Regions from separate parts of the Homo sapiens genome. Here regions 2, 3, 4 and 5 are each linked to region 1. Evidence: fine-mapped expression QTL. A gene starts in region 1. Each other region holds a variant in brackets. All regions are shown on one strand. Distances are between the middles of the regions. Region 1 holds the start of TCN2 (transcobalamin 2). Region 2 overlaps GAL3ST1 (galactose-3-O-sulfotransferase 1). Region 3 overlaps OSBP2 (oxysterol binding protein 2). Region 4 holds the start of DUSP18 (dual specificity phosphatase 18). Region 5 overlaps TCN2 (transcobalamin 2).

The links. PIP is the estimated chance that this variant, and not a neighbour inherited with it, causes the effect. A credible set is the group of variants that fine-mapping cannot tell apart.
Region 2: its variant is the best candidate, but not a certain one, in a credible set for the expression of TCN2 in subcutaneous fat (FUSION, PIP 0.85).
Region 3: its variant is the best candidate, but not a certain one, in a credible set for the expression of TCN2 in whole blood (INTERVAL, PIP 0.89).
Region 4: its variant is the best candidate, but not a certain one, in a credible set for the expression of TCN2 in atrial appendage (GTEx, PIP 0.65).
Region 5: its variant is the best candidate, but not a certain one, in a credible set for the expression of TCN2 in whole blood (TOPMed, PIP 0.61).

What each region holds. Positions count from the first base shown.
Region 1 is chr22:30,603,996-30,609,121 of GRCh38, forward strand. TCN2 (transcobalamin 2) reads left to right here and starts at 3,179. Exons shown (of 9, transcript NM_000355.4): 1 at 3,179-3,400. The coding sequence starts at 3,337. It also overlaps a transcript of PES1 not described here. RefSeq lists enhancers at 2,965-3,544, 3,047-3,341.
Region 2 is chr22:30,560,656-30,565,781 of GRCh38, forward strand. The region is part of intron 1 of GAL3ST1 (galactose-3-O-sulfotransferase 1); the gene reads right to left. Among named protein-coding and RNA genes, the nearest start is that of GAL3ST1, 11 kb to the right of the region's middle. RefSeq lists a silencer at 4,774-4,974. The variant C/T (reference allele first, on the strand shown) is at 2,384.
Region 3 is chr22:30,795,480-30,800,479 of GRCh38, forward strand. The region is part of intron 2 of OSBP2 (oxysterol binding protein 2); the gene reads left to right. Among named protein-coding and RNA genes, the nearest start is that of MIR3200, 66 kb to the left of the region's middle. The variant G/A (reference allele first, on the strand shown) is at 2,392.
Region 4 is chr22:30,664,003-30,669,128 of GRCh38, forward strand. DUSP18 (dual specificity phosphatase 18) reads right to left here and starts at 3,873. Exons shown (of 2, transcript NM_152511.5): 1 at 3,460-3,873; 2 at 1-78. The coding sequence starts at 1. It also overlaps a transcript of SLC35E4 not described here. RefSeq lists an enhancer at 3,971-4,360. The variant G/T (reference allele first, on the strand shown) is at 2,607.
Region 5 is chr22:30,625,202-30,630,327 of GRCh38, forward strand. It overlaps TCN2 (transcobalamin 2), which reads left to right. Exons shown (of 9, transcript NM_000355.4): 9 at 1,259-2,070. The coding sequence ends at 1,320. Among named protein-coding and RNA genes, the nearest start is that of SLC35E4, 8.0 kb to the right of the region's middle. The variant G/T (reference allele first, on the strand shown) is at 2,511.

The DNA.
Region 1 (5,126 bases):
AGCAGTGTTTTGAGGCAAGCAGGCTCCAAGTATCACAGGGCTGTGTATGAAGGGTCCGCTTCAGGTCTGGACGGCAAAGTGGACCTAGAGTCTTGTTTCCTTGGAAACTACAAAGTTAAGAAAAATGTGGAATGCTGAGTCCAGAAACACCTTATCTGAGACTGCTTGTCTGTGTCAAAATGACATAGCTCTTTTAGGCAACAGTGGGATGTTCTGTTCTTACTAATAGGATATCAAACAGCAAATTTCTGATTGCTTGTGCTTTTAGGGGGAAAAATATAAATAATCAGTAAAAAAAGTAGTAGTCACCCAAATAGCTGTAGCATGCATGGCCTTGATAGAAATGTTTCCTGTTGGCCAGGCGCGCTGGCTCATGCCTGTAATCCCAATACTTCGGGAGGCTGAGGCAGGCAGATCACTTGAGGTCAGGAGTCCGAGACCAACCTGGCCAACAGGGTGAAACCCTGTCTCTACTAAAAATACAAAAATTAGCTGGGGGTGGTGGCGCATGCCTGTGATGTCAGCTACTCAAGAGGTTGAGGCAGGAGAATCGCTTGAACCCGGGAGGAGGGTGTAGTGAGCCGAGATCATGCCATTGCACTCCAGCCTGGGCAACGAGTGAGACCCTGTCTCAAAAAAAATAAATAAATAAGAAAAAATAAGAAATGTTTCCTGTTGATGTTGCAGCTGGCTTGCAGCTGGCTTTAGAGGTCCCTGTTATCCCAGTCTAGTGGGAGCACAGGCAGACTTTTACTTTCTCATTCCAAGCTAGTTTTCACCACAAATAGAAATCTTGATCTGGCCAGGTGCAGTGGTTCATGCCTGTAATCCCAGCTCTTTGGGAGGCTGAGACAGGAGGATCGCTTGAGCCCAGGAGTTCAAAAATAAAAAAAATAGAAATCCTGATCTAAATGATGTAATCATTTTTGTTTTTCACATTCCCTGACCACATGACCTGAAATAGCACTACCCCTGACCAGTCACTCTATTTCTTTTTTTAATTTTACTTTATTTTTAGGACAGGGTCTCCTTCTGTCGCCCAGACTGGAGTGCAGTGGTCTGATCTCAGCTCACTGCAACCTCAGCCTCCTGGGCTCAAGTGATCCTCCCACTTGTAGCCTCTAGATTAGCTGAGACTTACAGGCACACACCACCATCCCTGGCATTTTTTGGTTTTGTTTGTTTTTTAGAATCAGGGTCTCACCATCTTGCCTAGACTGGTCTCAAACTTGTGGGCTCAAGCAATCCTCCTGCCTTGGCTTCCCAAAGTGCTGGGATTACAGGCATGAGCCACCAGTATTTCTAATATGTATGGGAAATATGCTGTCTTCCTATTCCTACTCCCCCACCCTCTAGCACTGAGTCCAGGTAGGTAGGCAGGGGGGTGTCTCCCTCCTTTACTTCGACACCCTAACTACCTTGGGGATCAGAAGTGACTCTCTGGAAGGATGCTGCTGCTTCTCACCAGAGGCTGACGATAACGAAGGCTATCCTCCATGGCCACCTCCTCCAGGCTGCCTTCCTGGAAATAGGAATCATAATAGTTGTTACTGGAAACAGGCAGAGGGTTGGGGGAGCCAAGGCAGTCCCACCCAGGACCAAGGTGGCTCCATTGCACACACTTCACCATGACTCCCCTGAAGGTCCAAACGTGCGGTTCTGCGGAAGTTGGGCTCCCCACTGGCCTCCCTCCTTCCTCAGAACCTCCAGGGGTGCTCCTCCTAGTGGCCACATCCAGCCTTTCTGACTGGACAACCTATCATTTAAAATTTTCAAGTAGTTCCGTAAACAGACACACGTTGCTGTATTTATTTATGTCAAGGGCTTGGTTTGTGATAAATCAGGCTCAAAAAGATTGTCTTAAAAGAGTGAACCTTGGCAATTTACCATAAAATAATTGCAATGCAGATTGTGCATGGAAATGATTGGAGATATTTTAAGGTCATAGTGTCTTCACAAATTGAGCTGAAAGGGAACTGTTAGGATGATCTTGCCTAACCCTCTCTTCTCACACAGGAAGAACTATTTTAAACTCGAGAGGTTAAGTGACCTGGCCAAAGTCACACAGCCACCACTAGTTAACTCGTATACATTGATTCTCCTGTGGGGCTGGGCAGATGAGGAATCTTTTGTTCTCTTCCCTGTTTGCAGAGATTTTTTTTGAGGTTACTTTCCGAGTTCTGGCAAGTACCCCTGCTTCTGGTAGCTTTGTGTCTCGATTCAATCTCATTCTTTTTATTTTATTTTATTTTTGAGACAGGGTCTCACTTTGTCACCCAAGCTGGAGTGCAGTGGTGTAATCTTGGCTCACTGTAGCCTCCACCTCTTGGGTTCAAGCGATCCTCCTGCCTCAGCCCCCCAAGTAGCTGGGATTACAGACGTCTGCCACCACGCCAGGCTAATTTATGGTTTTTTGTATGTGTTTTTTGTGTTTTTGTAGAGACAGTGTTTCCCCATGTTGCCCAGGCTGGTCTCCAACTCCTGAGCTCAAGTGATCTGCCCGCCTCAGCCTTTCAAAGTGCTAGGATTACAGGTGTGAGCCACCGTGCCCGGACTTAATCCCATTCTTTAACTTGTTTTGTTTTGTCCTCTCCAGGAGGCTCCCAGCCCTTTCGGATTGGTTGAGAAAAGTGGCCTGGCTGGTCTGGGGCCAGCGGCACCCACCCTCCCCTCAATTGCCCAACTCCCCCCCCCCACCGAACTGCCCAACTCCCCCTCCCCAACTGCCCAACTCCCCCACCCCCACAATCCCCTCCCGCCACAACTGAGGGAGGCGGTGCTGAAAAACAGCTGACTCCAGCAATGCTGCTCACGTGACCACTGCAGCTGCAGCTCCCGTTCCACTCCTTGTCCTGGGCTAGGTGGGCACTACCAGGGGCTCCTTTGGTAAGGAGTACCGGGTAGGCACCCGGTCCTGCCAATCCACCACTGGAACAGCTGGGGGGACAGCAGACAGGCACGGTCGGACAGACTTGACAGATCAGGCATCAGGCCCTCTGCGCTGGTCCCGGGCTCTTTAAGCAGGAACGTGAATGGCCTCAAGATGTCTCACATGGTCCCACTAGCCCTCCTCCTCCCTTTGTTCCCTACCTCCAGGAGGGCTGCTCTGCCCTTCCTTCCTCTGTTCTTTGGCCTTATGTTCCCCGCCACCACAGACCTTCCCCCGCCCCACCCCTCTGCAGACTTAGCCGTGCATTGCAGGCATGGAGGATTAATCAGTGACAGGAAGCTGCGTCTCTCGGAGCGGTGACCAGCTGTGGTCAGGAGAGCCTCAGCAGGGCCAGCCCCAGGAGTCTTTCCCGATTCTTGCTCACTGCTCACCCACCTGCTGCTGCCATGAGGCACCTTGGGGCCTTCCTCTTCCTTCTGGGGGTCCTGGGGGCCCTCACTGAGATGTGTGGTGAGTAACTCGCCTCTATCCTGTGCCTCTTTCCTCCTGGGTCCTTAGTGGGGTGGCTAGGGCATAGGATGAGGGAACTTACCTGCCCTTCTAAGCTCCCATAGCAGTTTGGGCTTAGCTGGACCTCAGCATTTAACACATCCTATTGTGATTGATTATATGTTTGACTCCTCACCAGACAAGATCTCCGTTAATTCAGTCATTCGTTCACACATTCATTCAGCGCATACTGAGCCTTTTCTGTGTCAGGCCCAGTGTTAGCCTTTGGGGAACGTGCAAAGCATGAGACAAGTCTAATCCCTGCCATCCTAGAGCTTATGTTCTAGGGAAGGGGGACAGACAAAAGAAATGGTTAGGTGCTCCCACCTGAAATCTCAGCATTTTGGAAGGCTGAGGCGGGAGGGGAGGATCGCTTGAGCTCAACAGTTCAAGGTCAGCCTGGGCAACATAGGGAGACCCCATCTCTACAAAAAATAAAAAAAATTAAAAAATAGCTGGGCATGGGGAAGACTTTCTGAAGACCAAGAGGACACATGGGAGCTGAAACTCGAAGGAAGAAAAGGAGCTGGCAGGAAAGGAGTGGGGGACACACATTCTAGGCAGCAGGAAGTGAGCCTTCGGAGGTCCTGCCTGCTCCAGCTCTGTGCCCCAAGGGGTCTCTTGGAGCACAGTCTCCTGGGACCTGTCTATGAGTCTGAGCTTAGAGGCTCAGGGCTGCTCCTTCAGACAGGAGGCAGAAGGCAGGCTTTGGGAACTTTGGGCCGCCCACGCGCCTTTTCTCCTCCTCTGCACCTAGGATTACGTTGAGCAATACACTTTCACCCCCATGGTCTCTTGAGACCCTGGGGAAACCCTGAGAGGTGGGTGCAGTCATGTCCAGGTGTCAAGTGAAGAAGTCGAGGGTTGGAGGGGCTGAGTGACCCACTCAGGGTGCTCCACCTTTTCCAGAGCTTTGCTGAACTTAGTTTTTAGAACTTGAAGCCTCGTTTGTTTTCGTTTTGTTTTTTGTTGAGAGAGGTTCTCCCTCTGTTGCCCAGGCTGGAGTGCAGTGGCACGATCTTGGCTCACTGCAGCCTCTGCCTTGTGGGTTCAAGTGATTCCCCCACCTCAGCCTCCCAAGTAGCTGGAGACTGCATGTGCATACTACCATGCTTGGCTAATTTTTGTATTTTTTTGTAGAGACAGGGTTTCGCCATGTTGCCCAGGCTGGTCTCGAACTCCTGGGCTCAAGTGAAACTCTTGCGTCGGCCTCCCAAATTGCTGAGATTACAGGCGTGAGCCACCGTGCCCGGCCAGAACTCCAAGCCTCTCATCTGTGTTCCATAAATGCAATCAGACACCTCAGGTCTGGGCCCAGGAACCCCAGCTCTTGGTTCATGTCCGGACAGTCCCCAGGGGAGTTCTGGGTTCAACCAGCAAGAGCTCTTCCTCCTGGCTGATCTGGTCCTCAGCCTTGGACAGTTAGTCCATTAACCTGACCCCACAGGAGCCCCAATCCCTTGGGGTCTGGGGAATCTTGAACTGGGGTTTGGGGTGCAAATATCTGCACTGAGTCACTTAATTGCACCCAGCCTCATTCCTTTATCTGTAAAGTGGGCTAAGAATGCTCCCCTGCCTTCCTCCTCGGTGTAGTACAAGGAAGGATCCCATGACACCTGCTCTCCCAGTTTAAAGCTCTATATGTATGTTGTGAAATTGACAGGGATCGCTGCACAAACGCTAATGC
Region 2 (5,126 bases), 43 kb before region 1:
TTAAAGATGAGGAGGGATTAGGATTCCTGTGGCTTGCCCTCTGGAAATCCCAAGGACCCACCCCGGCCCCAGCAGCCCCACTCACCAAGGTACCTTCTGGAATCAGGGAGGCTGCAATAGTGGAGGCGCTGAGGTTCAGGCCCAGCAGCAGGGGGCAGACCAGCCTCCCTGCCCCGCCAATCAGGCTCCACCTGGCCCCGCCCAGGACAGTTCCTCCACCCGCACCCCCCCAACCCCATTACTGGTACACTCATTCACTCATTCACTCACTGGTTTCATTCTCCCATTTGCTCTTTTGTTTGTTTTTGAGACGGTGTCTCCCTATGTTGCCCAGGCTGGAGTGCAGTGGTGTGATCTCGGCTCACTACAGCCTCCACCTCCTGGGTTCAAGTGATTCTCCTGCCTCAGCCTCTCGAGTAGCTGGGACTACAGGTGCCCACCACCACACTCAAGTAATTTTTGCATTTTAGTAGAGCCGGGGTTTCACCATGTTGGCCAGGCTGGTCTCAAACTCCTGACTTCAAGCGATCCACCCGCCTTGGCCTTCCAAAGTGTTGGGATTACAGGCGTGAGCCACTGAGCCTGGCCCCCATTTGCTATTTCTCAAAGCTTGCCAGGCCCCTGCCACACGTGCTGGGTGCTGCCAGCCACTGAACCTTGGGCTATCCCTCCTAGTTTTACTTTTGAGCCCCTGTTAGGAGCCAGGCCCAAAGCAGGGGCCTGCCTCTCCAGAGCATCTAACTGACCCTACTCAGCAACCACTCAGTGGATACCACTCCACCCCCCACCCTGCTGTCACCCCCATTTGGTAGATGGGAAAGGTGAGGTTCCAGGAGGTGACATAACTTGTCCAGGGTCATTCAGCAAAGCGGGGGCAGGGCTGGAATTAGAGCCCAGGTCTATGGAACTCCAATGTGCTGCTTCCTGCTTTGTCCATGGCAGCCCCTGCCTGGTGTGTCCTAAGCCCTGTCCCAAGCCCAGGGGAAGGAAGGAGGGAAAGTTGCATTGCAGGAAGTGGGGGATGTGGGGTTGGACAGGAAGCTCTATCCTGGGAGCACAGCAGGGTCCCGTCTCTGTGGGCTGAGCCTGCGGCCAGGATAAGGGGAGGGAAAGCAGAGGGGGCCCTGGTGTCCGTCCCTCCCGTGCCAGCCACCTGAGGGGTCCAAGGCTGGTTGTGCCTTTCCTGCCTAGCTACTGTAAACTTAGGCATGAAGCTATGAACCTCACCCTCCCTAAGCCTCAGTCTCCTCGTGTGTGCAATGGACACACAACAGCAAGATCAAGGCACACAGAGCGCTCTGTAATCACAGGCAGAGCCCCTGGGCAGACTGAGGTCGGGAGAGGAGCTAGCTGGCAGCCAGGAGCCTGGCTTGAGGGAGAACAGTCACTAGGCTATGAGATAATTTTTTTAAAAAGACAGGATCTTGCTCCATCACCCAGGCTGAAGTGAAGTGGCACGATCATAGCTCATTGCAGCCTTGAAATCCTGGGCTCAGTGGATCTTCTTGCCTCGGCCTCCTGAGTAGCTAGGACTAACAGGCATGCACCACCATGCCTGGCTACTTTTTAAAAAAAATTTTGTAGAGATGGGGGTCTCACTCTACTGCCCAGGCTGGTCTCGAACACCTGGCCTCAAGTGAATTTCCCACCTCGGCCGCTCAAGTGCATACCACCCATGCCCAGCTAAGTTTTTAATTTTTTGTAGAGATGGGGGCTCTCACTATGTTGCAGGCTGATCTTGAGTTCCTGGCCTCAAGTGATCCTCCCACCTCCACCTCCCAAAGTGCTGGGTGTAAGCCACCATGCCATGCCCTAAGGCTGTGAGACTGAGATAATGCACGTACCCAGGAGATCAACTCATATTAATTATTATCATACCATTGACTCTGACCCAGCCTTGGTTCACCGGCGTGCCAGAGGTGAGGTCCCTTCCATGCCCCGCTGCAGGCAAGCCTACCAGTGACTCATCCCTGAGCTCCCCGAGCCTGGCACCTGGTGAATGTGTGATGAATGACTTCCCATGACCCTCAGGGCAGAAGGTGTCCAGGGCTATAGAGCCCGTGCAGAGAATGTGGATGAGGACATGGTCCAGGCAGACAACACCTCACTGAGACACAGGAGAGATCCTGTGTAGGAGACCTACAGACGAAAGTAATACATGTGAGGCACATGCATGTAAAAGCTCCCATGGGCCAGGCCCGGTGTAATCCCAGCACTTTGGGAGGCCGAGACAGGCAGATCACGAGGTCAGGAGTTCAAGACCAGCCTGGCCAACATGCTGAAACACCGTCTCTACTAAAGATACAAAAAATTAGCCGGGTGTGGTGGTGCGCACCTGTAATCCCAGCTACTTGGGAGGCTGAGGCAGGAGAATTGCTTGAAC[C/T]TGGGAGACAGAGGTTGCAGTGAGCTGAGATTGCGCCATTGCACTCCAGCCTGGGTGACAGAGAGAGACTCTTTCTCAAAAATAAATAAATGGATTAAAAAATAATAAAAATAAAAATTGAAATCTGAAATGTCCCTAAATCCAAAACTTTTTGAATGCCTACATGACACCACAAATGGAAAATTCCATACCTGACCTCACGTGACAGGTCTCAGTCAAAGCGCAGGTTTATTTAGCATCCTGAAGGGAAAAATAAAACTACCTTGAGGCTATGTGTATAAGAAACATACATGAAGATGGGGTGTGGTGGCTCATGCCTGTAATTCCAGCACTTTGAAAGACAGACACAGGAGGATCACTTGAGCTCAGGAGTTTGAGGCCAGCCTGACCAACATGGCAAGACCTCATCTCTACAAAAAATACAAAAATTAGCCAGGCATGGTGGTGCATGCCTGTAGTCCCAGCTACTGGGGAGGCTGAGGCGGAAGTATCACCTGAACCTGGGAGGTCGAGGCTGCAGTGAGCCATGATCGTGCCACTAAACTCCAGCCTGGGCTACAGAGCAAGACCCTATCTCAAAAAAATTAAAATTAGGCTGGGCACAGTGGCTCATGCCTGTAATCCCAGCTCTTTGGGAGGCCGAGGTGAGTGGATCATGAGGTCAGAAGATCGAGACCATCCTGGCTAACACAGTGAAACCCCATCTCTACTAAAAATACAAAAAAAAATTAGCCAGGCTTGGTGGCAGGCACCTGTAGTCCCAGCTACTCAGGAGGCTGAGGCAGGAGAACGGCGTGAACCCAGGAGGCGGAGCTTGCAGCGAGCCGAGATCACTCCACTGCACTCCAGCCTGGGCGACAGAGCGAGACCCCGTCTCAAAAAAAAAAAAAAGCTTAAACAATAAAATCAATAAGAAAGAAAGAAACATAAATTCTTTCTAAACTTAAATGTTTAGACTTGGGTTCCATCTCCAAGATATCTCATTACATATATGCATATATTTCAAAATCTGAAAAATCTGAAATCCGAAACACTTCTGGTCCCAAGCATTTCGGATAAGGGATACTCAACCTGTACCAGCTGACCCTCCATCACAGGGTGCTGTGCAGATCCTCTGCATTCCACAGGGAAAGCACCCAGCCCGAGGCTGGTGCAGAGCAGACAGTCACTCAGCAGGGCCTGCCATCATTGTTATCATCATTATCATCATTACGTTCCCAGGGTCCCAGCCACAACCCCATCAAAGTGTGTGCCCACTGGCCCACGATGGAGGCTTGCAGGCAGCCAAGTCCAGGGATGATCTCAATGTAGCCAGAGACTCCTAGCCTCAGGGTCAGAAGACAAAGAGGCAGGGAGGCTCAGACTCAGAGAGGGCAAGGATACCTTTGGGGTAACACAGCCCAGCAGCAGCAGAGACAGGACTAGAACCTGGGTCTCCCACCTCCTCCACCCACAGTAGTGACAACTGCAGGCACTCAGGATGGACGGTCCCCCCGTCACCAGCCCACTCCATCTATTCCTGCCCTTCTAGATTACGCCCATCACATTGGCCTGCATCAGTGCAGGCAGCTGGCAGCAGGCCAGGCCCAGCCATCCTCCTGTTTAGCTGAACTGATGCCCTCCAGGGAATGAAGGAGAAACAGGACTTATTCCCCCACATCATGCACAAAGGGAAACTCAGCCCAGGATGGTAAACCTTCTGGCTTAGAGCATCACCACCAGTCAGGTCTCAGGGTATCCTACTTTCCCTGTAACCCCTGTGGTGGAGCAAAAGAGACACACTCACCTCGGGCTGTGGCTGGCTGCCCCTTTCTACCCACTGCCTGAGCCACGTCCAACTCCCAGGCTGCCTCTGCGATCACTGGGAGACAGGAATGCTCCAATGACACCCAGCAGCAAGCTGGCTGGCTCCCTCCCACTCCAGTGGTGTGAATATTCATGAGTTTGCTTCCTGGGGATAGCAGGTGGCACACCCCAGTACCCTGCAGGTGTTGCCCAGGCCTTCTGCCTCCACTGGACAGCTCTGGCCAGTCCTCACCTCTCTTTGGACCCCAACAAGCAAGCAGCTCTTTCATCCAAGGGCACAGAAAGATTCCAGGTATCCTTGGGCCAAGGACACAGCAACCGCAGACGCCTGCAGAGAGCCCAGAACAGGCTCTAAGGCTGAGTGAGGGACAGAGAGGTGCAGGTGGGCTGGGGTGCCAGAGGGCTAATTGCCCCACCTATTGCATTTCATTTAAGTCTCACAGCTGATGCATCAAGCACCCCTGTTAGTCTACCCTCCTGGTAAAGAAACCAAAGCTCAGAGAGGTAACGTCACCTGCCCAAGGTCACGCAGCTAGTAGAGGGCAGACAGAGCTGGAGTACATACGCAGACTTGCCAAACTCCAGGGCTTAAAGATGCTGAGACACAACCAGGGACCAAGGTTTATCTAAAATCTGTGGGAACCCAGAAGAATGAACAACTAACTCAGCCTGGAAGGCTTCCAGGAGGCAGAGCATCTGACCAGGGCTCAGAAGATGAGTCTGGCAAGATTTCACTTCCTGAGCTCTAAATCTTTCATCAGAGAGGGTGTCCTGCCTCTATCCCTGGGTGAGGAATGGTGATACCCAGACACTCGACCAGCTCTGCAGGATTTGGGCTGATTGGAGATGCAGATCTTCCCCAAGGCCTTGGCAGAAGAGGCAGTTCTAGGTGCCCTGGCCCTAAGCCCCAGGAACCCTAGGACTCAGTTCAGGCACT
Region 3 (5,000 bases), 190 kb after region 1:
TTCTTTTTATCCATTCTGCCGTTAAACCTATCCAATGCATTTTTTTTTTTTTTTTTTGAGATGGAGTTTCACTCTTGTTGCCCAGGCTGTAGTGCAATGGTATGATCTCGGCTCACCACAACCTCCGCCTCCCAGGTTCAAGCAATTCTCCTGTCTCAGCCTCCCAAGTAGCTGGGATTACAGGCATGCGCCACCACGCCCAGCTAATTTTGTATTTTTAGTAGAGATGGGGTTTCTCCATGTTGGTCAGGCTGATCTCAAACTCCCGACCTCAGGTGATCCGCCTGCCTTGGCCTCCCAAAGTGCTGGGATTACAGGCATGAGCCACCCTGCCCAGCCTCCAGTGCATTCTTAGCTTCAGATATGTTTTTAAATCTTGGAATGTCTATTTGATTATTTGTATAGATTTCCAATTCTGTTGAAATGCTCCATGTATTCATCCATTTTGTCCTTTATCTTTCCTTTTTTAAAAACTTATTAACCATAATTATTTTCAAGTTGGCTCCTTGCCAGTCAAGCTGCTTTGAACACCCTAGATATGCCAAGTGGTTTCTCTCACTGGTTCTTGACATTTCAGCCATCTGTATTTTTGAAAGTTTACATTTCTCTTCTGTAGTATTTTCTCTGATTGCCCTAACTGCCATGGGCTTCATGCAAGGAAGGCATTGAGTCTTTGAGAACTTCCTAGGATCTAGGAGGAGAGTCACACAAGGCCCTGGCTTTATGTGGATATAGCTTCTTGGTGACTGCTGAGGGAAATGCTGATCTCCTGGGCTGGATCGACCTCACTGAGGGCCCCTTGGTTAACCAAGGACACAAGGATGATGCTCAGGGTTGAATTTGTTTTTCTTGCTTTTACTCCTTATGAATCTCAAGTTTTAGAACATTGTAAACATAAATATATTTACAAGGGAAATAATTTTGATATTAAACTCTACTACCCTATGTTATTTTAAATTATCTTCTATTCTTTGTTAATATATGTGCTTTAGATAAGAACCATTGGGTTTAATTTTTTTTAATTATTTATTTATTTATTTATTTGAAACAGGTTCTTACTCTGTCGCCCAGGCTGGAGTGCAGTGATACGATCTCAGTTTACTGCAACCTCCACCTCCCAGGTTCAAGAGATTTTCATGTCTCAGCCTCCCTAGTAGCTGGGATTACAGGCTCATGCCACCAAGCCCAGCTAATTTTTATATTTTTAGTAGAGACAGGGGGGTTCACCATGTTGACCAGGTTGGTCTCGAACTCCTGACCTCAAGTGATCCACCCACCTTAGCCTCCCAAAGTGCTGGGATTACAGGCGTGAGCCACGGCACCCAGCCAAAATTTGTTTTTGTTGTAGCAAAATACACATATCATAACGTTTACCATATTAACCACTTTTAAGTGTAATGTTCAGTGGCATTAAATATATTAGTGTTGTTGTGCATCCATGACCAGCAATAATCCACCTATCCATCTCCTGAACTCCTTTCATTTTCCAAAACTCTTGACCCATGAAACAGTAACTCCCCATTCCTCACTCCCTTTAGCCCCTGGCTCCCACCATTCTACTTTCTGTCTGTTTGGATTTGACTATTCTAGGTACCTCATATAAGTGGAATCATATGGTATTTATCTTTTTGTGTCTGATCTATTTCCCTTAGCATAATGTCTTCCAGGTTTTTCCATGCTGTAGCATATGATAGAATTTCCTTCCTTTTTAAGGCTAACCAGTATTCCACTGTATGGATAGACTACATTTTGTGTCTTCCATGTTTTAGCTATTGTGAGCAATGCTGCTATGTTTATTTATTTATTATTTTATTTTTTTTGAGACAAAGTCTCCGCCCTGTCACCCAGGCTGGAGTGCAGTGGCACAATCTTGGCTCACTGCAAACTCCGCCTCCTGGCTTCAAGCGATTCTCCTGCCTCAGCCTCTCGAGTAGCTGGGATTACAGGCATGTGCCACCACACCCAGTTAATTTTTTGTATCTTTAGTAGAGACGGGGTTTCACCATGTTGGCCAGGCTGGTCTCAAACTCCTGACCTCGCGATCAGCCCACCTCGGCCTCCCAAAGTGCTGGGATTATAATCGTGAGCCACCACACCTGGCCCTATTTATTTTTATTTAACTAATTTTTTTTTTTTTTTAGACAGGCTCTCACCCAGGCTGGAGTGCAGTGGCACAATCAAGGCTCACTGCAGCCTCAACCTCCCGGGTTCAGGTGATTCTCCCACCTCAGCCTCCTGAGTAACTAGGACTACAGGCGCCAGCCACCATGCCTGGCTAATCTTTGTACTTTTCGTAGAGAGATGGGGTTTTGCCATGTTGCCCAGACTGGTCTCAAACTCCTGAGCTCAAGCAATCCACCCACCTTGGTCTCCCAAAGTGCTAGGATTACA[G/A]GTGTGAGCCACCATACCCAGCCAATGCTGCTATGGATATTGGTGTACACGTATCTCTTTGAGACCCTGGTATATGCCCAGAAGTGGAATTGCTGGGTCATAATAATAATCCTATTTTTAATATTTTGAGGAACCTCCACCCTATTTTCCACAGCAGCTGCTCAACCATTTTATATTCCCACCAACGCTGAGTTTTAAATTCTCCACATCCTTGCCAACACTTGTTATTTTCAGTTTTTTAGATGGTAGCCGTCCTAGTGGGTGTAAGGTGGTATCTCATTGTGCTTTTGATTTGCATTTTCCTAATGATTAATGAAGCCAAGCATCTTTTCATGTACGTATTGGCCATTTGTGTATCTTCTTTGGATAAATGTCTACTAAAGTCCTTTGCCCATTTTTGAATCGGATTGGGTTTTTTGTTGTTGAGTTTTAGGAGTTCTGTATTCTGTATATTAATCCCTTACCATATATATGATTTGCAAATATTTTCTCACATCCTGTGGTTTTGTTTTTACTCTGTTGATAGTGTCCTTGGAGGCATAAATTTTTTAATTTTCACGAAGTCCATTTTGTCTATTTTTGTTATCGTCTGTACCTTTGGTATCATACCCAAGAAATGTTTGCCAATTCCAATGTTGTGAAGCTTTTGCACTAAGGTTTTGCTTATAACTGTTTTATAGTTTCAGCTCTCACATTTCAGTCTTTGATCCTTTTGAGTTAATTTCTGTATATGGTGTTAGGTAAAGGTTTGATTTCATTCTTCAGTATGTGGATACACACTTTTCACAGCAACATTTGTTGAAAAGACTATTTTTTACCTACTGAATGGTCTTGGCACACTTGTCAGAAGTCATTTGATCAGCTGGGCATGGTGGCTCACACCTGTAATCCCAGCACTTTGGGAGGCCAAGGCAGGCAGATCACCTGAGGTCAGGAGTTCAAGACCAGCCTGGCCAACATGGTGAAACCTTGTCTGTACTAAAAAATACAAACTTTAGCTGGGCATGGTGGCACACGTCTGTAGTCCCAGCTACTTGAGAGGCTGAGGTGGAACAATCATTTGAACCCAGGAGGCGGAGGTTTCAGTGAGTTGAGATTGTGCCATTGCACTCCAGCCTGGGTGACAGAGTGAGACTCTGTCTCAAAAAAAAAAAAAAAAGAAATTATTTGACTATACATGCAAAGGTTTCCTTCCTTCCTTCCTTCCTTCCTTCCTTCCTTCCTTCCTTCCTTCCTTCCTTCCTTTCTTTCTCTTTTGAGATAGGGTCTCACTGTGTCGCCCAGGCTGGAGTGCAGCGGTGCAATCTCAGCTCACTGCAGCCTCTGCCTCCCAGGTTGAGGCCATCCTCCTGCCTCAGCCTCCCAAGTAGCTGGGACTACAGGCGCCCACCACCACACCCAGCTAATTTTTGTATTTTTAATAGAGACAGGGTCTCACCATGTCTTGGTCTTCGAGACCAAGCTGGTCTTGAAAAACCCCTGGCCTCAAGTGATCTGCCCGGCTTGGCCTCCCAAAGTGCTGGGATTACAGGCGTGAGCCGCCACGCCCAGCCTGCAAGGGTTTGTTTCTGAAGAGCCATTGGAGTTTTAGGGCTGAAAGATACTGCAGGCAGTAGTTAATTCAATGCCTTCTTATTACAGATGAGGAAACTGAGGCCCAAAGACAAAGGGCAACTTGCCCTGGGTTTCGTAGTGACAGAGCTGAAAGTACATCCTAGGCCTGACTCCACATCTGATGCTTTTAAAAGCTAGTTGTTAGTTTGCTTTGCTCCTAGAAGAGTGTTATCTCAGTTACTATTTCGATAGAAGTGGCAAATGCCTTTTTCATTCTGCAGAAAATGTGTGTGGCTTACCCATCCTCTTCACCACTCCTGTGGAGCAGTCCATCACTGGCAGCTCCTGTATTTTGAAGCATTACTGTGGCAAGAATAGGCCACCTGTTTTGTGGGTTTCTATTTGCCCTGACATTTAGTTTGCAGAGTTTGAAAGGGTCCTGAATATAGCTATGTAATAACCTACTACAGAATGCCTTCCCAGTGCACATTTGTCTTTATTGCCTACAGCAAGGAACTTGATCTTTGAAATTTTTAGCAACCTAGAGCCTCTTTCCGTCATGCCTACCAGTAAGACAGACCTGGGCTAGGCTACCGTCCCAAGGGTTGTCTTGGCAGAGGCTGGGTTGGGGGTGAGAATAGGGGCAACGGGGAATATGAATTAGACAAAATTCCAAAGCAGATTTAAAATTATGCCATTCTTGGTATTTCCTGGCTGGGTTTGCTCATTCAAGAGCTATTAAGCCCCTCTTAGTGGTATTGTGGACACTTTGCTGGGAGCTGACAGGCCCCTCACAAAACCAGAAGGCAAGAACTCATAGATTTTCTGGAGGAGCTTACGAGAGGGGGCAGGGACCCAGGGAAGAGGCTGCCATGTGGGACCAAGGAGAGAGGAGGAGGGCTGGGTCCAGGCCTCCCGAAGTGTCAGAAGGAAATGGTGAGCCAAGGAAGCACTGGTGGAACCTGGGGCAGGCTGGCTGGTTGTGAGGGAGGAGGAAGGCATGAGCCATGGACATGCTTCTGTCTTCAGAGAACACCTGAGAGAGCAAAGCACAG
Region 4 (5,126 bases), 60 kb after region 1:
TCAAGGCGGTGGGTCAGTGGTCAGCAGTCAGCGAAGCACGAAGGCTGCGTCTTTCTGCTAGGCTGTGTCCATGGAAAACTGCAGAGAGGGAGAGGATGTTTAGAGGGCAGGTGCCCAGAGGGCCAATTCCAGGGGATCCCTGGGAAATGGATGGATAGGCTTATAGCATTCCCCAAGGCAGTCCTCTGACCATCACAGCAGAACTACCCAGCAAACTCATTTAAAGTACAGATACCCAGGTCCCTCTCCAAACCCACAGTCAGACTCTCGGGGTGAAGAGCATGAATCTGCATTTTCAGCATGCTTCTCAGGTGGTCTAATGTGCACTGCCCTATAGGACAAATGGCAAGTCCCCAAGTCTGGCACTTGAGGCCTCCCTTGAGGGGTCCCACAGCTCTAGTTGGGCAGATGACTTGTGTCCCTCAGCTGTGCCTTGGCCTGATTCTCCATTTAAGCTCACAGAGCCCTTTTCTTGCTGCTCTTCCAAATTCTCTCCTTCCTTCCAGCCCCTCTGAGTGGGAACCATTTGTACAGTCTTCCTCCTCAGTCTTCTGACTTTATGCCCAAATCATAAGGTCCTGAGCCAGTGGCATGGAACCAGAGCCCACTGTGCTGGCAGTCACTGAGGAGGCTGGTATAAGAGTAGGGAGGGTTCCCATTTTCCCCCTCTAAGAACCATCTCTTTAAAGAGACAGGATATGCCCATGCGAAGCTGATGTCAAATACAAAGTCCTAAATTGTTAGACATGCTCCTGCACCTTGCCTCTGAAGAAGGCCTGGGAAAGGGAGTGGCTGAAAGCTTCCTGGAAGCCAGCATAATGGGCACCACAGCAACCCCAGGGACAAGCACAGAGACAGCAGGGCCTTAGGAAGACCTGCCACACCTGCATCATGCTGCCTGCAGCAGAGCTGTGAAACACACCCCAGGGAGAGGCAGACCCCTTCCCTTCACCTGCTCGATAGGCTCAGTCGCCGCTAAGTAATTGGGGTAGAGGTTCAGCCGCAGATCTGCTTCCCGCGCCGCAGACCGTGCAGTCGTCGGTGCTCCTCAGGTGCGGCCTGGGTGCCCAGAGCATTCATTAGACTCTCGGACCCTCACTTTCTCAGTCTTAAACAAAGCTGCAAAAACCAGGACATCTTTATACATTCCGCTGAAATAGGGACATTTGGATTTAGATCACACCTTTCAAGGCCAAGTGGCAGTCTTCACCAGGCACGAGAAATGAGGAGCCAAAGTTTTGTTTCCCTGCTTAATATATTTCAGTGGCTATCCACTGTGAGGATAAGATGGAGCCACTTAGTTTGGCTGTCAAGGCCATTTGTGACCTGGCTCCTGCCTGTCTCTCCAGCCTCTTATTAGGCTTCTCCATGCTCTGAAGGGCCTCAGGTGAACCGAGCCACTTACAGTTCCTTAGGGACAACCTGTCCTCTCCAGCCAGTGGCCTTTGCCCCTGCTGATCTCTCAGTCTCTTTCCTTATGAACCCATCAGATCCTGATCTGGTCCATTCAGCAGAGGACTGCAGAAGTCTGAGGAGCCTTAAGATATCAACTTAAAGGTAACTGTTTTAAGGGAAATCTCCTTAGATCACACCCCTCCCTCACGTTTGACCAACTCTGCTCCAGGCTTTCTTAGCCCTATGTTCTCTCCTTCCTAACACTTACTGAAGACGTAGTTTTGCTCCGATCTGTCTGATTATTTGATTAATGTCTGTCTCCCCAAGAGACTGTGAGCCCTTTAGGGATATGATGGTGTCTGTCTTCACTCCCACTCTATCACCAACTAGTGCCAAGCGCTGTGTCCCCACAAGTAGGTGCTTGATAAATATTTGTTGAATGAAGAAATGACTCCCAACAGCTATGACTCTGCCTTCTGAGAGGTTTTCTGGAAAGAATGAGTTCTCTGGCAGCGTGTCTCCAGAATTCCAGGGAGGGGCTGGGTGGGGATGGGGGTGGTTCTGAGGCTACTAAAGAGAAAGACCAAAGGTTGTATAGGCAAATCCTACCTGCCAATGCCCCAGACTCAAATGCATCAGGCTCATTCCCGGAAGGACAGAGAGGGCTGGCTTGCTACAGAGGTGATATGAAGGGCAAAGAAAAAGCCTCCTGAACCCAGATGGAAGTCTAAATGCTAAGGAATGTTCTGGATCCTCGTCATCAGAAAATCCATAGAGAAGTGAACTGATGTCCCCCCAAACCAGTGCCCAGTGGGTAACGGGAATAGAGGAATGTGCTGTTCATTATAGCCACTAAAAGTCTGCAGAAGTGACAATGCTCTTGCAGGTGAGGGTAGTGATGCGAGGAGTCATTTTCATGCTAGTTAAGAAATATCTATCAGGGCTGGGCACGGTGGCTTAAGCCTATAATCCCAGCACTTTGGAAGGCCGAGGCGGGCAGATCACCTGAGGTCAGGAGTTCAAGACCAGCCTGACCAACATGGTGAAACCCCCGTCTCTACTAAAAATACAAAAATTAGCCAGGCGTGGTGGCATGGGCCTGTAGTCCCAGCTACTCAGGAGGCTGAGACGGGAGAATTGCTTGAACCCGGGAGGCGGAGGCTGCAGTGAGCCAAGATCGTGCCACTGCACTCCAGCCTGGGAGACAGCGT[G/T]AGACTCCATCTCAAAAAAAAAAAAAAAAAAAAAAAAAGCAATCTCTATCAGGCACTGTATTAGGTGTTGGAGATACTGAAATGTACAAGACAGGCATGGCCCCTTTTCTCAGGGAGCTCAAAGACTAGTGGGAGAAACAGATAGTAAACAGGCAATTACAGGCAGACAGAGCTTGAAAATAGGATAACAGTACCTACCTTAAAAGGATGTTGTGAAATTAAACGAGATAATCCACGTAAAGAGTTTTCTCAGGGCTTGGCATAGAGTAAGCCCTCTCAAAATGATAACTATTTTTCTCGCTTCTGATAGGGAAGTTAAAATGCAGGGCTCTGTGAAAGGGAAGTGTAAAAAAGATTTCTTCCAGGTCGGAGCCTAGGGAGTCGCAAAGACCACCTGAAGAAATCACAAAAGATCTAAAGAACGTTTAGCTTGAGAGGGAGGAGGAGAAAAAAATAGCAACTCGGTAGCAGTTCAGCTTCACCACTTTACAGCCTATGAAGTATTTGGCTTCCCTCATCTGGTTCGATCTTCAAAGCAACCTAATCAGACCGGCGTCTAGAGTTAATATTTCCATTTTACAAAAGAGGAAAGTGAGACACAGCGCGGAAAAGGACTTGTTCAGAACGAGTCATAAAGCAAAGAAGCCGACCTTTATGGTCCATTATGTGTGGGAAAAATGAACAAACACCGCGGGGCGTTCGTGAAATACTAAGTTATAAACATGGAACAAAGTCCAAGAGTTAACGAGAGCGAAGCATCACTTCTAGGGGTGGGCCGGGTAGGTTTCCTAGGGGAGCTGGCATTGGAATAGGCTTCTTCGCCTGCTTAGTGTCAGGACCCCCAGGGTTTTACCTCTCTCCTTCAGGCGGGTGGGCGGGTTCGCTCAGGAAGTAGCCGCTTGGGGAAGCCTTAGGCAAGGTTCTTCGGGAGAGAGACCCGTCATGATCCCGCAGCCTCAATCCCCGCTGGCCTAACGCTTTGGTTTCCATAGCAATGGGCTCGTCGCAGAAAGGAATAGCCTGTGCCGGGTCTTCAGAGAAATCCTGGCCTCGGCTCCACGCCCCTGAGCAGCCCCACCCTGGCTCAACCTGTTACCCGCCCTGCCGGCAAGCCGGGGTCACTGCAGTCCCCGTGGCGAAGCAGGGTCAGCTCAGCTCACCGCACCCCACTCCATCCAGCCCTGCCCATCTCTACGGCAACGGGCCGGGTCGCACCAGGGCTGCAGCCGAGAGACAGTCTCACCGCTTCCGTAGCCGCCCGGGCTCTGTGCGCATGTGCGACACTCCCTCCCCGGCCCCGCCCCCTTATGCGTCTCCCAGGCAACGCGCCGCGCGGGGCTCCAGGTTCCGCCCAGGGACTAACTCCAGGTCTGCGCGCGTCCAACGAGCACGGCTCTCAACCGGCCTCCTGGCGCCCAACGACCATGGCTTCCAACCGGCCTCCGTGCGCCCAACGACCATGACTCCCAACCGGCCTCCAGTTTCCAACTGTTTCTCGAACAGGGAAGCCGCCATGACACAGCTGACTACGCCCTTGGTCACAGGGGACCTGAGATCCTCCACGATTTACGGGACCGGCGCCACCTCGGGCTCGAACCACCCTCTCGATAGGGCCGCCGCTAAGTAATCGGCGTAGGGGTTCAGCCGCACATCTCCTTCCCGCGCCGCGGACCGAGCAGTCGTTGGTGCTCTTCAGGTGCGGCCTGGGTGCCCAGAGCCTTCGTTAGACTCTCGGACCCGCAAGGGAGCCCGAACTCTTTCAGACTCGCTCTCCCTCAGCCGGACCTCGGCCCTTTTTCACACCCCAGGGGAGTCTGGATTTCTCATAGTCCTGGGCACCAGCCCCTTCCCAGTCTAGCTCTTGGGACTCCCTGAAGCCGGAACTCCCTCGCCTGGACTCCCGGGAGAACCTGGAATCCCCATCTCCAGTCCACATTTTCTCAGAATCTGTCCTAGCCCTTCAGTCTCCCAGGCATGACATCGTGTGGTCCCAGCGCCCTAGGTGGTGAGCTGTGACTCTCCTTAGAGCCTGGCGAGGCCGAGGTCCTCCCCAGCTCGAACCCATCCCACACTCCCCTTCTCAGCCTCTGTGTTCCCCAGTGGTCCTGGAAAAGCCCCCAGTTCCCTCTGCCTGGCCCCAATCCTCACAAACCCAATTACCCACGCTCCTTTCCATTCCATAACCCCCATCACTGCATCCTCCAGGCTCCCATCCATGGAGGACTTGAGGTGGAAAGCAATTTGGTTCAAAATAACCATTATTTATTACTTGAAAGGGAATATTTCCAGTCGTTGCCAGCCTCCTCCCCTTCTAGTATTGGTAAATTTTTTGCACCACTGAGTGGGTGAAGAGTTTTATGCGTCTTTAAATGTTTTAAGGATTTTTTTAAAAAAACAAAAAACTCTCAGGATTTGGGGGACTTTTGTGTTTGAGCATCTTGATCTCTAAACCAGCTTTTTCCATCACCTCACACCTAGGCTATGCATAGAGGTCAGAAAAATGTAAATGAGAGATTGAGA
Region 5 (5,126 bases), 21 kb after region 1:
GAGTGAAACTCCATCTCAAAATGAAATAAAATAACAGAAATGTATTTCTTAACAGTTCTGGAGGTTGGGTGGGCAGTCCCAGATCAGGACACTGACAGATTCAGTGTCTGATGGGGGCCCACTTTCTGGTGTTACCTGCTGGCTGTGTTCTCACATGGTGGAAGGAACATGGCAACTTTCTGGGGCCTTGTTTTTTAATTTAAAAAAAAAAAATATTTTCCTGGCCCTTGCCTGCTGAAGGAACCTCTTTTATAATGGTACTTAAAAATTTTTTTTTTTGAGATGGGGGTCTCACTCTGTCACCCACGCTGAGTGCAGTATCACAATCTCAGCTCACTGCAACCTCTGCCTCCCTGGCTTAAGCGATCCTCCCACCTCAGCCTCCTGAGTACGTGTGACCATAGGCCCATGGCACAAAGCCCAGCTAATTTTTTGTATTTTTAGTAGAAATGTGGTTTCACCATGTTGCATAGGCTGGTCTCGAACTTCTGAACTCAAGTGATCTGCCTGCCTTGGCCTCCCAAAGTGCTGGGATTCTAGGTATGAGCCACCCTGCTCGGCCTATAATGGCACTTTCCTATCCCATTGATGAGGCTCTACTCTCATGACCTAATCATCTCCCAAAGGCCCTAAGGCCTCCTGATACCATCACCTTTGGGGTTAGGTTTTAACATATACATTTTGGGGGGACACAGACATTTTAGACCATAGCACCTCCATTGAAAGGAAACATTTCTGACACCTGGCTATCTCAAAGGGCCCTTTCAGTTCCCCTGCAGGCTGCATTCCCACATCACCAACAAGAGCAGCGACACTCACTCAGAGGTTAAATAACTTGTCCAGAGTCACAGCAGTAATGAATGACAGAGCTGGGGCTTGAATCCAGGCGTCCTCCTAGAGCCTGGATTCTGTGTAGTGAGTGAAAGCTGACTCCTGGGAGACTTCTGCGTGGTCCTGGTTCTCTCTCCAGACTGCACTGCGCAAGTTTCTCTTCCTGATGGTCCCTAGGGTATTACAAAGACAGTGGCCCTGCCTGTCAGGTGTTTTTATTACCAGATGAGGTCATGGCCTCAGGAACCCTGTGGGAAGCTGAGTTCAGAGTCTTTGAGCAGGCTTTAGGGAGGTTCCAGCTTCCCACCACCAAGCCCCAGGTGGATTCTTACAGACTCTAGCCTCAGGGTGGGGGGTCTGGAAGATGAGGTTGCGGGGTGCGATATTCTGCCCAATTCGCCCCTCCTTGCTCAATCTGTTTCTGCAGGTATTGCTGACTACAGACCCAAGGATGGAGAAACCATTGAGCTGAGGCTGGTTAGCTGGTAGCCCCTGAGCTCCCTCATCCCAGCAGCCTCGCACACTCCCTAGGCTTCTACCCTCCCTCCTGATGTCCCTGGAACAGGAACTCGCCTGACCCTGCTGCCACCTCCTGTGCACTTTGAGCAATGCCCCCTGGGATCACCCCAGCCACAAGCCCTTCGAGGGCCCTATACCATGGCCCACCTTGGAGCAGAGAGCCAAGCATCTTCCCTGGGAAGTCTTTCTGGCCAAGTCTGGCCAGCCTGGCCCTGCAGGTCTCCCATGAAGGCCACCCCATGGTCTGATGGGCATGAAGCATCTCAGACTCCTTGGCAAAAAACGGAGTCCGCAGGCCGCAGGTGTTGTGAAGACCACTCGTTCTGTGGTTGGGGTCCTGCAAGAAGGCCTCCTCAGCCCGGGGGCTATGGCCCTGACCCCAGCTCTCCACTCTGCTGTTAGAGTGGCAGCTCCGAGCTGGTTGTGGCACAGTAGCTGGGGAGACCTCAGCAGGGCTGCTCAGTGCCTGCCTCTGACAAAATTAAAGCATTGATGGCCTGTGGACCTGCTACAGTGGCCTGGTGCCTCATACTCCTCAGGTGCAGGGGCAGGGACAAGAGAAGGGGGAAGTAACCCCATCAGGGAGGAGTGGAGGGTGCCTGAGCCGCCATGTGGGCATTGGGGGAGTGATGGGAATGCCAGCAGTGATGACATTGACTACTGACTGAGCACCCACTACTATGACTGAGCACTCACTCGCTAGATACTATCTTGAACTGCTCTGTGAGGTTGTTGATATTTTCATTTTTATCTGTGCTTTACAAATCAGGAAACTGGGAGGCCGGGCATGGTGGCTCACGCCTGTAATCCCAGCACTTTAGGAGGCCAAGGCAGGTGGATCACAAGGTCAGGAGTTTGAGATCAGCCTGGCCAACATGGTGAAACTCCATCTTTACTAAAAATACAAAAAATTAGCCAGGCATGGTGTTGCATGCCTGCATGCCTGTAATCCCAGTTACTTGGGAAGCTGAGGCAGGAGAATTGCTTGAACCCTGGAGGCGGAGGTTGTAGTGAGCCGAGATCACGCCATTGCACTCCAGCTTGGGCAAGAAGAGAAACACTCTCAAAAAAAAAAAAAAATCAGGAAACTGGTGCTCAAAAAGGAAAAGTGACTCACCAAGGTCACAGACTAGGCAGTGATGCTGGGGGAACCTGGCTCA[G/T]GGGACACAGACCTGGCCTGGGGCAGCCTTGCAGCTCCTCCACTAAAATACTGAAAATGAGGGGCTTCGATGATGGTTATAATCGTATGGCAGAGCCCCAACTCAACTGGAGCCCTGGGACCCAGAAGCTAGGGTCTCACTCCCTGCTTTTCCACAAGGCACCATTAGGGCATCACCCCAGGCCTCGGCAGCCACGACGCAGGGATCCTGCCTCTCATTGGTTGGGGGCTTAGGGGCTCTGGGCTGCCCTCTTGAAGAGGGGGTTCAGCCCAGCGAGGCACCCCCTATGCTGCACCCCACCAAGGTTAGGAAGAGGTCCTGTCCTCAGTGGGGCCCTCTGATGAACAGCCCATCAGGTCTGCGTCCACATGCCTTGGAAGAGATGGTGACATACTCAAAGTCCTTGAAGCCGCATATTAAACCACCTAGAGCACCATCTTCAAACATTTAGGGTCTGAGAAGATAGGGGAAGTAAGCAATTTAAAACATTTCTTTATATTGGGCCAGGTGCAATGGCTCACGTCTGTAATCCCAGCGCTTTGGGAGGACGAGGATCACCTGAGGTCAGGAGTTCAAGATCAGCCTGGCCAACATGGAGAAACCCCATCTCTACTAAAAATACAAAAATTAGCTCAGGCGTGGTGATGTGCACCTGTAATCCTAGCTATTCAGGAGGCTGAGGCACAAGAATTGCTTGAGTCAATATTGCACCACTGCACTCCAGCCTGGGCAACAGCGAGACTCTTGTCTCAAAAAAAAAAAAAGATATTTGCTGAAAAGACCCAGCCTGCCAAACTCAGGGGCAGCCAAGGGAGGTAGTGAAATGGAAGTTGGAGCTCAGCGCTCCCTCACCTCCACTGCCCTCAGGCCTTCTCTGCCTCTTTCCCATCAGTCAGCTGCTTCTGGGCATGGTCCTGGCAGAGACTTGGCCTCCTTCCAGTTCAAGCTCCCTCTTAGATTGTGTCCCACGCCACTGAGTCTCTGGGACACTGGGTCAGTTGTCTAGTCTGGCACAATTGGCAGGAATCCCAAGAAACAGTGTGAGTGAGGGGACAGTCGTGTTGAGTGCGTGGCCTGATAACAGGGTAAGAGTCCAGAGGCCCTCCATCTGGGACTGGGAGGCAGGTCTATGTCAGGCCTGCATTTAGATCTCTAATAGCTCCAGACAAGCCCCTTCAGCTCACTAAGCCTGTTTCCTAACACAGCTGTGGGATGGTGCTTTGGTTTACATAGCACGCGATACCATCATAGATCACATGGGGAAACTGAGGCCCCAGGAGTGATCTGCTGGCACATGCAGTGACAAGAGGAGAGGCCCATCTCAGCCTTGCAGCAAGGTTGCCAGAAATCGATTCTCGCCCCCATCCCGTAAAGCCTCTCTGCATCACCTGCTTCCCACAGCAGCAGCCTGGGCCTCCAAAGGGCACATTCAGATTTGAGGGATTTGGGGAGTTTGTGGGCAAGGGCAGACTACTATGGGCTTTTGGGTGAACCCCAAGGGAATGCAAAGAAGCCCCCTGCCATTCTCCATGAATGGAGCTGAATGCCCTAGCCCCCCATTCTTCCACGTGGGAGTATCCTCTTGAGAGTCCTGCTGGCTGTTGGTCAAGGCAGGTTAAAAGCTGAGGCTTAAAGTAGCCAGGGGTAGTGGCTCCCGCCTGTAATCCTAGCAACTTGGGAGACTGAGGCAAGAGGATCAATTGAGCTCAAGAACTGGAGGCTACAATGAGGTATGATCACACCACTGCACTGTACTCCAGCCTTGGGGAAAGAGCAAGACCCTGTCTCAAAAAAAAAAAAAAAAAAAAAAAAAAAAAAAAAAAAGCTTTGGGAGGCCGAGGCAAGTGAATCACAAGGTCAGGAGTTCAAGACTAGCCTGGCCAAGATGGTGAGCCCCTGTCTCTACTAAACTACAAAAATTAGCTGGGCGTGGTGGCAGGCGCCTGTAATCCCAGATACTCAGGAGGCTGAGGCAGGAGAATTGCTTGAACCCAGGTGTCGGAGAGTGCAGTGAGCCGAGATTGTGCCACTGCACTCCAGCCTGGGTGACAGAGTGAGACTCCATCTTAAAAAAAAAAAAAATGCTGAGGCCCTAGAGCCACACGGAGACCGGGTCCAAATCTCCTGCCACCACTCAAGCTGCGTGTCCCTGGCTTCTTGCTTTTTGCAGCTGACCAAGCCCTCTAATCTGCAACTGGGATAATACAGCGCCTGCCTCCAGGAGGAACAGTAAGGAGTGGATGGGATGAAGCCCTCCACCCTGGCCACAGGTGGTGTCTGTGGGTGGCAGAGCTGAGATTCCCCCACCTTGGACCCCAGTGCCGACACTTGCCATTGTACCATGCCACCTCCCTGCCCCCTGAGACTGGGCCTGAGGAAGCCACAGCCCCTCCCATGTGCCCTGGCCCCTCTGGGCTCCCATGGAGGATGGTGCTGCTGGGTCACCTGCTTTGGGCTCTGCCCTCAGACTCCCTTCACCCCAAGGTGTGCCATCCTCTCCATTCCACCAAGGCCTGTCCAGGCCTCGCTTGCTTAATCCATAGTCTTCAGAGCCACCTGTCATTAGGCAGGGCAAGTGGGAGCCGCTTCATGGTGATCTTGGAGACAGATTTTCAC